Linked DNA regions of Homo sapiens: region 2 is linked to region 1. The links come from fine-mapping of genetic effects on plasma protein levels. Region 1 holds a variant in brackets. A gene starts in the other region. All regions are shown on their forward strands. Region 1 overlaps IL17RE (interleukin 17 receptor E). Region 2 holds the start of IL17C (interleukin 17C).

Evidence for each region. PIP is the chance, under the fine-mapping model, that this variant and not a neighbour inherited with it causes the effect. Protein levels are from antibody-based Olink assays in UK Biobank. Linkage for the fine-mapping came from a reference panel and not from the study's own genotypes, which makes the PIPs less certain.
Region 2: IL17C starts here. The variant in region 1 is fine-mapped to the plasma level of the IL17C protein (UK Biobank, PIP 0.96).

Annotation. Positions count from the first base shown.
Region 1 is chr3:9,908,480-9,911,371 of GRCh38, forward strand. It overlaps IL17RE (interleukin 17 receptor E), which reads left to right. Exons shown (of 16, transcript NM_153480.2): 8 at 738-804; 9 at 2,386-2,561; 10 at 2,648-2,695; 11 at 2,776-2,821. Among named protein-coding and RNA genes, the nearest start is that of IL17RE, 7.1 kb to the left of the region's middle. The variant G/A (reference allele first, on the strand shown) is at 2,464.
Region 2 is chr16:88,636,953-88,639,792 of GRCh38, forward strand. It overlaps IL17C (interleukin 17C), which reads left to right and starts at 1,620. Exons shown (of 3, transcript NM_013278.4): 1 at 1,620-1,695; 2 at 2,029-2,357. The coding sequence starts at 1,690. It overlaps LOC124903755 (a long non-coding RNA gene), which reads left to right. Exons shown (of 2, transcript XR_007065181.1): 2 at 1-482.

The sequences.
Region 1 (2,892 bases):
GGAAGGGTGCTGCTGAACATTGGACCTTCTTAGGGTGATTCCAACCTCAGCCTCATCCAAACCCATCTTTCCCTGGCCCAGACCTGGCCTCAGCCCACAGAGCCAGAATAGGCAGCTGTCATTGCTGTGTGTTCTGAGGAGTCGAGGAAGGAGTGTGTGCATGGCCACTGCAGGATCCATATGCCCCCAAAAGTCTTGTCCCCTCTAGGCCTCTGTGGCAGTCCTCCTTTTCTCTTTACAAGTCTAAGGAACATAGCAGAAAGTTTTCTTTGGACTAGACAGAAAAGGCAAGGGAAATTGTCACCTGGAAGACCTAAGGGAGGATGATGGCAGAGACCTAGAGCCACGAGCAATTGCCAGGGTGGACAGCAGGTGGGCATGTGGGCATTCCAGAGTCAGGAGCCAACACAGAGCACTGGGTGCCTTGGGGATGGCTGAGAGTGGAGGCCAGAGAAGACCAAAGCTGAGGAATGCGACCTCAGGATTTCCTTCTTTCTGGGGATAGTTCTCTTTAGGAGGAAGAGGAGTTAGCCCCTCACTTGCTTATCCCTCTCCTATGCTCTGGAGTTCCTCTCCACCCTTGCCCCCACCCCACATTGCCCCCTCCTGCTCGGTCAGTGCCTGGCCAGCTCAGGCAGCTTGCGTCACAGTAAGGTAAAGCCAGAATGAGTTTTAGGTCTGAGTGAGATTGGAAAAGCCATTCCTCTGACCCTCCCCACCTGCTCCCGTCTCTCCAGGCATCCTACCTGCAAGAGGACACTGTGAGGCGCAAAAAATGTCCCTTCCAGAGCTGGCCAGAAGCCTGTGAGTGCTGTTGACACGCACCCTTGTGCACACACATCCCCTTTCTCTTTCTGTCTCCTACACACACATGTACACACACACACACACACACCCCGCACTTCACACATGTGCTGGGGGAAGTCCCCAGAAGGCATGCAGGTACTTTCCCTGGAGTCAGTGGGGGGAAAAGGGCTGCCAAGTCTACCAGTCCGCTTGCCAATAGATCAGAGATCGCTGAGCACCGCAGTACTGTGAGAAGTTTAGAAATATGAGGCCTAGGAGATGGTGTCCTAAGAGGATGGGCCAGAAGACCCAGTTCCCATCACAGCTCTGTCAATTGTTCTTCTCTGAGCCTCACTTTCCTCATCTGTAAAATCTCAATACCTGCTCTGCCTTCAAAGTGTTTGTGAAGCCTGAGTTAAATATTACATATGAAAGTGGCTGGTGATGTCTGAAGTGCTGTATGCATGTTGTTGTTCTCAAGGAGAGGCAGGACACTCAGACAAAAGTGACTCACATAAAGCAGCCTACAGAACTTACAGGGCAGGGTTATGGTTAAGGACTAGGCTGTAGGGCAAGAAATTGGGAAAGGGAGAAGCCCAAGAAGGGCCATTATAAGCAGAGAAGGCCTCTTAGAGGAAGTGGCACCTGAGCTGGGGTCAGAAAAAGGGCAAGACTTAGAAAGGAGAGATAGGAGGGAAAGACATTCCTGGTTCTGAGAGGACCCTAAGCAGATTTCGAGTTTGGGGAGAAGCAAGGACCTGGCCAGAATGGAGGCCTGGGAAGGAGAGGAGAGAGACCCCTGGATAGAAAGATAATGAGGTTGGGCGCAATGGCTCACGCCTGTAATTCCAGCACTTTGGGAGGCTGAAGTAGGCAGATCACCTGAGGTCAGGAGTTTGAAACCAGCCTGGCCAACATGGTGAAACCCTGTCTGTACTAAAAATACAAAAAGTTAGCCGGGCATGGTGATGCGCGCCTGTAGTCCCAGCTACTCAGGGGATCAAGACAGGAGAATCACTTGAGCTCGGGAGGCAGAGGTTGCAGTGAGCCGAAATCACACCACTGCACTCCAGCCTGGGTGACAGAGTGCAACTCCGTCTCAAAAAAAAAAACAAAAAACAGAAAGGTAATGAAAGGGGGCTGGGCATGGTGGCTCACACTTGTAATCCCAGCACTTTGGGAGGCCAAGGTGGGTGGGTCACAAGGTCAGGAGTCCACGAGGTCAGGAGACCAGCCTGGCCAATATGGTGAAAACCCATCTCTACTAAAAATACAAAAATTAGCTGGGCTTGGTGGCACACACCTGTAATCCCAGCTACTGAGGCATGAGAATCGCTTGAACCCAGGACACAGAGGTTGCAGTGAGCTGAGATTGCACCACTGCACTCCAGACTGGGCGACAGAGTGAGATTCTATCTCAAAAAAGAAAAGGAAAAGAAAGATAATGAAAGGGATGCTCATTGATTTAGTACCTGTTCTGGCCAGGAATAGTGCTGGTTACTTTTACAAACATTATCTCCAGCTGCCCCCAGGATGTGGGTGGCAAGGTGGGGCTGAAGCAGGGCTGACCCTCACCCACTGACCCTGCCACCTGCCCAGATGGCTCGGACTTCTGGAAGTCAGTGCACTTCACTGACTACAGCCAGCACACTCAGATGGTCATGGCCCTGACACTCC[G/A]CTGCCCACTGAAGCTGGAAGCTGCCCTCTGCCAGAGGCACGACTGGCATACCCTTTGCAAAGACCTCCCGAATGCCACAGCTCGAGAGTCAGATGGGGTGAGGACAGGTTCCCCCAGGACCAGGGTGGGCAGGGCTGGGGCCCAGGAATTTTCTCCCTGATGAACTCTCCTCTCCTCCCACAGTGGTATGTTTTGGAGAAGGTGGACCTGCACCCCCAGCTCTGCTTCAAGGTACAACCATGGGTAAGAAAAGATGTGGTGTAGTGGGTATTGCCTGGAGCTTGCTAATCTGCCATTCCTGTATTTCTCAGTTCTCTTTTGGAAACAGCAGCCATGTTGAATGCCCCCACCAGACTGGTGAGTCAATAAGTGACCTCTGCTGGGACCCCCTGCCCCATTTCATCCTCACCCAACTGTAACCAAGCTAA
Region 2 (2,840 bases), not on the chromosome of region 1:
GACTGAGGTTTTCAGCTTAGAGGACACCTCCGTGGAACACATCTGCACCGCGGCAGGGGAGGAAAGGCTGGGGGCACACAAGCACCCTCCCTCCCGCCCTCACCCCGAAGCTGAGGGGACCAGGGCGGACAGATTCCCCCACCTCTGATGTGGCCAGGGGCCCTGGGGACTCCAGGACAACCCTCCTCAGGATGACGTCAAACCCCCGGCATTCAAACCTTCCCAAGTTCTGGCTGCAGCTGTCCCTTTCCGGGGAAACAAAGGCACCTCCAGCGCCCCCACCCCCAGCCAGCCTCACCGATCAAGGAGGCCAAAGGCAGCTCCCGGCCCCGCTTACATAAAGCTTCCTGTGTGTGCTGGTCACACCTCACACCTCACGCCTCACGCCTCATGCCTCATTCACACCTCACACCTCACTCCTCACACCTCCAACTCAGACTTTTTAGCTTGAACTTTTTTCTCAATAAAACCACAGAAGCCCAGGCCGGGTGCAGTGACTCATGCCTGTGATCCCAGCACTTTGCGAGGCCGAGGTGGGCAGATCACGAGGTCAGGAGATCGAGACCATCCTGGCTAACATGGTGAAACCCCGTCTCTACTAAAAATACAAAAAAATTAGCCAGGTGTGGTGGCGGGCGCCTGTAGTCCCAGCTACCCGGCAGGCTGAGGCAGGAGAATGGCGTGAACCCAGGAAGCTGAGCTTGTAGTGAGCCGAGATCGCACCACTGTACTCCCCGCCTGGGCGACAGAGTCAGACTCCGCCTCAAAAAAACAACAAAAAAAAAAACAACACAGAAACCCAACAGAGACCTGAAGACGTGCCTGCCTCCCCCATCTCCGGGACCTCTCCCACCTGGGTGAAGGGGGCACGTGAGCCTCACCTGATCTTGACCATCTCAGCTAAAACACTGAACCACCCTTGGCACCCACCAGCAGCAGACGGAGAAGAACTGTATAGGGTGCAAAAGCGCCCCGCCACCATCAGGTCCAGATGAAAACCTACAAGTTGAATCAGCAAGGTGCTGACGGATACGCAAGCAGAAACCCTCTTATAGGAGGTTCAAGGCTGGGCGCAGTGGCTCACTCCTGTAATCCCAGCACTTTGGGAGGCCAAGGCGAGCAGATCACTTGAGGTCAGGAGCCTCAGACCAGCCTGGCCGATATGGCAAAACCCTGTCTGTACTAAAAATACAAAAATTAGCCAGGCATGGTGGGGGGTGCCTGTAATCCCAGCTACTCGGAAGCCTGAGGCAGGAGAATCGCTTGAACCTGGGATGTGGAGGTTGCAGTGAGCTGGGACAGCACCATTTCCCTCCAGCTCGGGTGACAGCAAGACCCTGTCTCAAAAAAAAAAAAAAAGTTTGAGAATGTCAGACAAGGCAGCACCCTGTGTAGGTGCTCAGGTTGGGCGGAGTCTCTCTCGGGGGAGGGGGGTAACAGGACAGCGCCTCCCGGGGCCTCCTTGCATGTCTGTGTCCTGATGCACAGCAGGCGGGGGCTGCGGGGACCAGAGAAGGAAGAAGCGCCCCAGCTGGGCACTTCCCGAGGAGGAAGTGGTGCCGGAATTTCCCCCAGGTGTGGCCTCAGGTATAAGAGCGGCTGCTGCCAGGTGCATGGCCAGGTGCACCTGTGGGATTGCCGCCAGGTGTGCAGGCCGCTCCAAGCCCAGCCTGCCCCGCTGCCGCCACCATGACGGTGAGCCTCTCCACATGCCGCTCGGATGGATGCTGCTTGGATGTGCAGCCTGGCATGGAAGGGCTGGGGTTCTCTGAGCCTGGGAGGAGGGTGTTGGGATGGGGTCTGGGAAACCCCTCAGTCTGGGGGTAGGGGAGGCAGCTGCAGATCCTCGGAGCGCTGGCATGCTGGGTGTCTTGGGCTGAAGGGCTAGCCTCTCTGGGCTTCAGTTTCCCCATCTATAGAGGGAGGGCTGTACTCCATCTTTCCGCTGGGAACAAGGAAAGCTGAGGTGGAAGTGAGGTGCCCCCTGCCCTGGGCACCTCCTAACCACCCACCTGCCTGTTTCACCAGCTCCTCCCCGGCCTCCTGTTTCTGACCTGGCTGCACACATGCCTGGCCCACCATGACCCCTCCCTCAGGGGGCACCCCCACAGTCACGGTACCCCACACTGCTACTCGGCTGAGGAACTGCCCCTCGGCCAGGCCCCCCCACACCTGCTGGCTCGAGGTGCCAAGTGGGGGCAGGCTTTGCCTGTAGCCCTGGTGTCCAGCCTGGAGGCAGCAAGCCACAGGGGGAGGCACGAGAGGCCCTCAGCTACGACCCAGTGCCCGGTGCTGCGGCCGGAGGAGGTGTTGGAGGCAGACACCCACCAGCGCTCCATCTCACCCTGGAGATACCGGTGAGGACCTGGGGATTCCGCTGTGGCGTGGGGCTGCCCCTCCCCTGGCGGGGCCCTGACTGCCCGGAGAGCTCTCTGGGCCTTGGTGGTTCTCACCTGTCAAGTGGGCGTGGCCACCTGAGCTCCCTCCCTCCGGCCCTCCTGACCTGGACGGCTGAGCTGCTGCTTGCGGCTGGCCGTGCCCTGCCTCCCACTGTCCTAGGTGGCCAGGGTCCCCTGGGGAAATTCTGGGCCCGTCACCTGAGCTCCTGCAGAAGTGGGGCTGGGTGATGAAGTGGAAGGGAGGCTCCTAGAGGCCTCCGGACCCTGCTCTGTGCTCTTGGAGGGCCCTGGGGAGACGTGGATTACCACCACATGTGAGCCCGACTGCACCCCAAGCCCGTGTGGCTCAGCCCTCGCTGCCTCAGGTCCTATCCTGAGTACACGGAGAGGGGCCCTGAGGGGAGAGGGGCCTCCAGGAGGACAGGGTAGGGCCAGAGACTC